Linked DNA regions of Homo sapiens: all the other regions are linked to region 1. Evidence: fine-mapped expression QTL. Tissue or cell type: whole blood. Region 1 holds a variant in brackets; each other region holds the start of a gene. All regions are shown on one strand. Distances are between the middles of the regions.

Region 1 (2,683 bases):
AGTGAGAATTTTATGATTATGAAAAATTTAAATCCCCTCTCCATCTAGTGCTATCATAAATGAAAATAGACTTTTGGAGTGGTTTTCCTTCTAGGAGTCCCAGAAGCACTTCAGTTCCCAGTCACTCCTCTAATGGGCAGTAGCTATGTGACTTTGGACAAGTCTTGGATTCTGATTTCGTCATCATCAAAGTGTAACAGCCCAACTAGATAATCTCTAAACTAATCCCTTGTAATTTTAAACTTTCAATGTGTCCACATGGCCTAGTGGAAGGAGACTGGACTAGTGATGTAGGCTTGTATCCTGGGGTTGTCCCAAGTCAACATCTCCAAATTTAATGTTCCTTATGTGCACCTGTAGATAATGATATTGACCTCACCAGCTTTCAGTAAAATTTAAAAAGAGATGTCATGTGTAAAAATTTCAGGTACCCAGTGCCTCACTAAATGTTAGTAGACTCCGAATAATACTCAACTTATGCAACCCTACTTAGCTTTCCTGGTGATGAGCAGAGTTAACTTCAAAGTGCCATGGCCAGGCCGGGTGCAGTGACTCATGCCTGTAATCCCAGCATGAGACAGGTGGATCACCTGAGGTTAAGAGTTCAAGACAAGCCTGGCCAACCTGGTGAAACCCCATCTCTACTAAAAAAATACCAAAAAAATTAGCCAGGCATGGTGGCAGGTGCCTGTAATCCCAGCTACTCGGGAGGCTGAGGCAGGACAATCACTTGAACCCAGGAGGTGCAGGTTGCAGTGAGCCAAGATTGTGCCACTGCACTCCAGCCTGGGCAACAGAGTGAGATGCTGTCTCAGAAAAAAAAAAAAAAAGTGCCACGGCCTGGTAACCTTAAACAGTACCAGACCTTGCTCATTAGCTGCAGGGCCCATAAGTCAGCCATGGCGTCAAGCACACCAAGGTGAAAGCACACATTGAGTTTTCCACCATGTTCCCCTGGCTTTCCTGTGTCCTGAATGGAGGATGCCAAGAAGGGCCTTTTGTTAATTTCTGCTTGAGTCAATCCACTTTCTGCTTGTTCTACTGCCATGGATTGTACCCTTAGCTCTAGCCAGC[T/C]GGCTGGAGATTCCTTGTTACTGGACACAGGAAAAGCCAGACAGAGGGTCAGTTTAAATCTGTCAGAGCGCCTAGAAAACAACTCGACTGCGCATGCCCGGCTCTCCGTGGGGCAGGAGAGGCACCAAAGGCCACCCCAGGGAAATTCTGACAGCAGCAGGGATCAAAACCATCATGGTGGGGATAAAACCACCTGCTGCTTGCACACACCATTCCGTTAGCATATGCACCTGCAGTAATTTAATGCCCCACAGGCCCTCACCCGACAGCTGGCAGCCGCCTGCCTCCAGCTTCAAGTCACACCCGACGCCCTCTCGGTAGAGGAGCTCGATTCCGCGCAGGTTCTCCCTCAGCTCCTCTGCCTGGCTGGGCTTCTTTACATCTTCCCTGGCATTTCCAGCCCTCTCGCATGTCTGCTGGGCAGCAGCCTTCACCCGGGGCGCTCCCAGCGCCTCTGCTGCGGCCAGCACATCCCCCTGCGAGGCGGGGCCCAGCACCCCCTCATAGGCAAAGGTCAGCACGGCCTCCCAGCCCCCTGGGGACACCTCGAGGCTGAAGGGGGGCCGCGGACCTCCGCCGCCCAGCAGCCTGTCTCGGAAGAGGCTGCTGATTGCGGCCAGGATCACCCGATGCACCCCGTATACCCGCCCCGCGACTGACACCTCTTCGTCCAGCAACAGTCTCTGCTCCCGCAGCCGCTGGGCCTCGGCGAAAAACTGGCTCGGATGCTCCTCGCTGCGCAGCCACTCGGGCTCTGCCGCATCTTCATCTTCTTCCTCTTCCTCTTCTTCCTCTAGGGACAAGGCTGGAAAGGGAAGGTTCCTTGGGACCAGGGGCCTGGAACCAGGCTCCTCCAGAGGAAAGGAAGGCAATCTGGGATCCTCGTCGGGGGAGGGAGGCCAGGAAGGGGTTCTCTGGGCGTGCACAAGGAGTCCAAGGCAGTCCCTCTGGACGGGATGAGAGACACTCTCCAGCTCAGGGGGATAATGTGGGGTGTCCGAGACGCTCATGCCGAGGTTTGCTGGATAGCTGCAGGTGAGCAGAGGCAAGACAGCCTGGCGTCAGAGCTGGGCCCAAAGAGGCCAGAGCAACCATGTCTCCAGCCAGTTGAAATGTCAGTCTCTCCCCTGCTCCAACACCCTCCTCCTACCCTCAGCCACATCCCAGCACTGGAGTATCTGGGATATACAGGACAGCTATAGGGTGCACGCGGTGCAGTGAAACATGCAAGAAGCCCTGTAAAGATCCGGTAACCGGGACCACACCCCTCCCCTATTGCCCCCATCCTTTTAGTCACCCTCAGGAGACACCAGCGTTCCGCTTGCCCTCTCACTTAAGCGCCCGCTGTGCTTGGGGCTGCGTGGCAGAGGGAACTTGCCCACATGGCATCCCAGTCAGCCAGTGGCCCCATGGGGCTAATTATAGCCAGTCCTGGCTGGCTAGGCACTTGGCACCTGGTGTCCTAACTCTGACACCCAATCCCCTGGGCTCCCTCCCAGACTGACATCCCCACCCTTCCACCTGTAGGTCATACAGGAGTGTGCTGAGCTAGGCAAATTAGGAAACCAAGGAGAATGAGGGGATCTGGTGGAATGAGCCCAAGGCCAGA
Region 2 (2,683 bases), 22 kb before region 1:
GGCCAAAAAGGACAACAATATCTCACTGGACGTCAGTGTGACAAACACGTAAAAAATGATGGCTTCTGTGCCCAATACACTTTGCTCATGTCGTTGCCCTATATAAGCCCCCAAGGAAAGGAGTGGGGAAACTCAGAATTGACTCAGATTTTTTTTAAAAGAGATCTCAAGCCAAAAATAAACAGAAAAATAAGGACAGTTTATTTGAGCAACATAGTGAGACTGTCCTATCCTTAAAAGGACAGTCTCACTATTTTGCTCATTTTATTGTTTTGCACCCTGGAGTTTTTGAAAGGAGATTCGGCTGAACCACAAATGGAAAGTTAAAGTTCCGTCCCCACTTCCATCTCTAGTTCCCTTCTCTGGAAGTAAACATTGCTCACAGTTTTATACTAACAGTTTCACAGTTTCTATGCATATGCAAATACATGCCTTCACCATCACCACTGCTTTTGCTTTTGCTTTACACAAACAGGATCATAAGTTAGATGCTATTCTGCACTTAGTATATCTCAGAGACCTTGCCCTGTTAACACATTAATACCCACCTCACTCTTTCCTTTTTTTTTTTTTTTTTTTTTTGAGGCGGAGTCTGGCTCTGTTGTTCAGCTCACTGCAATCTCTGCCTGCCGAGTTCAAGCGATTCTCCTGCCTTAGCCTTCCGAGTAACTGGGATTACAGGCGCCCACCACCATGCCCGGCTAATTTTTTTGTATTTTCAGTAGAGAGGGTTTTCACCATGTTGGTCAGGCTGGTCTCAAACTCCTGACCTCAGGTGATCCCCAACCTCCGCCTCCCAAAGTGCTGGGATTACAGGCGTGAACCACCGCGCCCGGCCTCCACCTCACTCTTCAAGTGGCTGTATGGTAGTCTAGCACATTTAAGCACAGTCTGGGTTTCTATTATCACAAACGGTTCTCATACTACCATTTGTTGGTGACAGCCACTGTCCCCTTTCGATGGGCACACAGGGCAAGGAAGTAAGAGGGGATGATTCTTACGTGGTCTCTCTTCCTGTCCCTCCCTCTCCTTCAGCCTTCTCCTCCTCCTTTCTCACCTCCCCTTTCACGCAGTATACACTCCCTCCCCTTCCCGGAGCCGCCGGGAGGAGCAGGGTGGATGCACCCCTAGCTGAGTCTCGGGTGGTTCCTAACCGGCCCCGCCAGGCACTTCCCACCCAGCTCTCAGCCTCAGAGCCCAGCGCCCTAGACCCAGGGCCAGGGCAAGTTCTGCCTGCGCTCGGACCCTACCTTAGACTGGGGCTGGAAACCCTGGGTGCCTGACCTGGGGCGTCCGATTCCCGCAGCAGGAAGCAGAAACTTCGCTCTGGATTCTGCCGGTGGGAAGGGTGGCAGCCGGGGGAGGAGCCGGATGCGGATCTGAGAAGAGACGGTGCGGGCGGAGACTCTCGGGCCCGGGCGGGGCGCAGCAGCTGCTGGAAGGGCAGCGAGCCGAGGGCCGGGCAAGACGACATGCCAGGGCTGCGACGCGAATGCCCAGGACCCCTGCCGCCTTTTCTGGGGCCCGAGTTTAGTTTGTTATTGTTTCTATTTTTTTTCCCTTTCTGGTCCTATTTTCTCCTGTCCCTAGGGCTTCCCCCTCTACCAAATTCGTCTCCTCTGGCTAATTTTCGTCTTTTTTTCTCCCATTAACTCTTCAAACACCGTTTCCTGGAAAAGATTTTAGCATGCTCGCTGCCTAGCTGTACACCTCTCCTTCCTAATATCAAAGACGGTCAGACTCAATTCATCCTAAAGTTCCTTTGAGGAACTCCTTAAAAGGAGACGGAAAGCGGAAAGCAACCGCCTGTAACCAAGTGTAGACATCAGTCAATCAAAGTTCGCTGAACTGAGAGCAAGTGCCTCCCCTCCTGTTGATCAGAAGAGAGATCCGTGGATCACACAGAATCTATCTGGAGCCATCCTGAATGATTAATGCTGAACCCTTTCCAGGAAGATGGAACCAGGCTTAGGAAAGAGACAAGTGACCCTTAGGTTAATAATCCTAGCTTCATAAAGAGAGGACCAAACATAGTAGCAGGAGAAATATGCTTTCTGCCTTTATATAAAGCAGATTAGCTGTCTTCTGGAAAATATCATTGCTTTCCTTAGAGAGGTACCCTTGAGTCTCAGGTAACAGCTGAGCTTCCGCTCAGAATTGAGGGCATTCTGTCCTCTATTAACTGAGCCAGTACCCCTTTCCTTCCTTAGAAACCTCTATTGCCACCAGTCCCAACACTCCCTGCAATGGTCTTTATGTTTGTGTCTCCCCAAAATTTATATATTGAAACCCTAATCCCAATGCGATGGTATTTAGGGTGGGATCTCTGGGAGGTCATTAGGTCATGGAGTTTAGAATACTCATAAATGGGATTGGTGGCCTCATAAGGAGAGACGGAAGAGCTAGCTAGCTCTTTTTCCACGATATGAGGATACAAGAAAACAGCCATCTGCAATCCCAAGGAAGACCCTCATCTTCAGAGGCAGACCATGCTGGCAATCTGATCTTGGACTTCCATTCTCTAGAACTGTGAGAAATAATATTTGTTGTTTAAGCCACCCGGTCTACGGTAATTTGTTATAGCAACCTGAACTAAAACATTTCCTTTTTATAACAAATATTTTAAAGCTCTTTTTATTTTTCTGAAACATAATTCGTAAAGAATGTAACTTACCCCCACGCA
Region 3 (2,683 bases), 92 kb before region 1:
TTTTTTCTTTCTAAACTTTACATCTTTTGATGAACAAAAATTAAAATGTATCAATTTTTTTTTCTTTGTTTTTTTCAGACGGAGTCTCACTCTGTCACCCAGGCTGGAGTTCAGTGGCGGGATCTCGGCTCACTGCAACCTCCGCCTCCCGGGTTCAAGCGACTCTCGTGCCTCAGCCTCCCAAGTAGCTGGGATTACAGGCGCCCGCGACCACGCCTGGCTAATTTTTCACTTTTTTTTTTTTTTTTTTTGTAATAGAGACGAGGTTTCGCTATTTTGCTCAGGTTGCTCTATAACAGATACTATGCTATCCTAACAATATGTTTCTAAATGATATTAGTGCCAAAACCAGGATTACCCAGTGATTTTGTTAATACAGGCTTATTGAATCGGAGGGTCTGGGGTGGGGAATTTGCTTAAGTATGCAGTCCCCATACTCGGTGATTCTCATGAAGCCAAACATTTGGGCGCCCCTCACCTGATGTCACCAAGAACCAGAAGACCAATTAGAATTTTCGTGGGCTTCCTGCCCCATGGTTCCCTCTGTTCCCAAAGGGTTTCTGCAGTTTCACGGAGCTTTTCACATTCCACTCGGTTTTTTTTTTTTTGAGACTCGCTCTGTCGCCCAGGCTGGAATGCAGTGGCGCGATCTCGGCTCACTGCAAGCTCCGCCTCCCGGGTTCACGCCATTCTGCTTCAGCCTCCCAAGTAGCTGGGATTATAGGCGCCCGCCACCACGCCCGGCTAATGGCTAATTTTTTGTATTTTTTTTTTTTAGTAGAGATGGGGGGGGGTTTCACCGTGTTAGCCTGGATGGTCTCGACCTCCTGACCTTGTGATCCGCCCGCCTCGGCCTCCCAAAGTGCTGGGATTATAGGCGTGAACCACCGCGCCCGGCCCGGTTTCGTTTTGTTTTTTTTTTTTTTTTTTTTTTCCAAAAATGGGCGGAGGAGAGTAGTCTGAATTGGGTTATGAGGTCCCCTGCGGGGTACCTCACCTCAGCCATTGAACTCACTTCGCTGGCCGTGAGTCTGTTCCAAGCTCCGGCAAAGGAGGCATCCGCCGGGCCCCTCCCCGAAGGGCGGGGTCCACGGCATCTCCTGCCCAGTCTGACCTCGCGCGGAGCCCCGTTCTCTGGGAACTCACCTCCCCGAAGCTCAGGGAGAGCCCTGTTAGGGCCGCCTCTGGCCCTAGTCTCAGACCTTCCCAAGGGACATGGGAGTGGAGTGACAGGACGCACTCAGCTCGTGGCCCCACTGATGAGCTTCCCTCCGCCCTATGGGAAAAAGTGGTCTCATACAGAACTTATAAGATTCCCAAATCCAAAGACATTTCACGTTTATGGTGATTTCCCAGAACACATAGCGACATGCAAATATTGCAGGGCGCCACTCCCCTGTCCCTCACAGCCATCTTCCTGCCAGGGCGCACGCGCGCTGGGTGTTCCCGCCTAGTGACACTGGGCCCGCGATTCCTTGGAGCGGGTTGATGACGTCAGCGTTCGAATTCCATGGCGGCGCGGCGGCGACGGAGCACCGGCGGCGGCAGGGCGAGAGGTTCGGAGCTCAATATCGCGGGACGGCATGCGGGGGGCGGGCAGTCAGAAAGGAACGATGCCACCTACTGTGACCCCCTTCCCCTTCCAGCTCCCTATAACCTGCACTTGGCTACCAAACCAGTTGGGGTGCTAAATTTTGTAAATTTCGGTTTTCAGAGCTTTGGGGATTACATAATTGTGCATAAAGCCTTGCGGAGCTGTAACAACTAATGTGCCAGTACTGTTGTTAATACCTAATGTCATCCAATTTACAAAAAGTAATTGTAAGGCACACCATTATTTTATACACAACAAAGGATAAGCACTGAAAATGGTGAACTGTGATTCACTGCTTATGTCATCCATTGTAAGATGCATCCCAGTTCCAGAGAGTAAAATGCGAGTCTTAGACCTATTGAGATACGGTATTATGTGTATAATGTTCTTAAATGCATAGGTGCACCCTATAAATTAGGTTCTATTGTACTTCTCTAGAAGTACAGTATTGTACAATATTCTAATATTGGAGTAAGTGAAGTAGGAAGAGATCAAATACTTCTCCAAGTTTCCACAGAGAAAAGCAGCAGAGCTAGGCTCTAAATTAGGCACAGACCCTTGAGCACTTAACTAACCTTTATCCCATACGGCCTCATGTATGAGGTGGGTATTTGGGGGACATTGGGACACAAGTAAAACAGATAAGCAGGCCTCAATCTATGAGCTTACAAGACTCCTGGGACTCCCTTTTATTTTGTTTTATTTCATTTGGCTAGAATAGCAATTTAGGAAGAATTACACAGACTGTTACACAAAAGTAGTGTGGGACAGTTGTTATTGCCTCTGTAAACTTAGAAAATTATCTTAAACCGGCGGGGTGAGGTGGCTCACGCCTGTAATCCCTTGGGAGGCCGAGGAGGGCAGATCACTTGAGGTCACGAGTTCGAGACCAGCCTGGCCAACATGGTGAAACCCTGTCTCTACTAAAAATACAAAAATTAACTGGGCATGGTGGTGCACGCCTGTAATCCCAGCTACTCAGGAGGCTGAGGCACGAGAATCACTTGAACCCAGGAGGCGGAGGTTGCAGTGAGCCAAGATCGCACCACTGCAGTCCAGCCTGGGCGAGAGAGTGAGACTCCACCTCAA

What was found. PIP is the estimated chance that this variant, and not a neighbour inherited with it, causes the effect.
Region 2: TEP1 starts here. The variant in region 1 is fine-mapped to the expression of TEP1 in whole blood (TOPMed, PIP above 0.99).
Region 3: PARP2 starts here. The variant in region 1 is fine-mapped to the expression of PARP2 in whole blood (TOPMed, PIP 0.91).

Annotation. Positions count from the first base shown.
Region 1 is chr14:20,433,728-20,436,410 of GRCh38, forward strand. KLHL33 (kelch like family member 33) reads right to left here and starts at 2,439. Exons shown (of 5, transcript NM_001365790.2): 1 at 2,372-2,439; 2 at 1,337-2,103. The coding sequence starts at 2,084. RefSeq lists an enhancer at 1,986-2,683. The variant T/C (reference allele first, on the strand shown) is at 1,075.
Region 2 is chr14:20,412,121-20,414,803 of GRCh38, forward strand. TEP1 (telomerase associated protein 1) reads right to left here and starts at 1,381. Exons shown (of 55, transcript NM_007110.5): 1 at 1,285-1,381. RefSeq lists enhancers at 219-1,135, 245-414, 965-1,034, 1,535-1,584.
Region 3 is chr14:20,342,132-20,344,814 of GRCh38, forward strand. It overlaps PARP2 (poly(ADP-ribose) polymerase 2), which reads left to right and starts at 1,504. Exons shown (of 16, transcript NM_001042618.2): 1 at 1,504-1,556. The coding sequence starts at 1,511. It also overlaps RPPH1. RefSeq lists enhancers at 387-486, 1,417-1,586.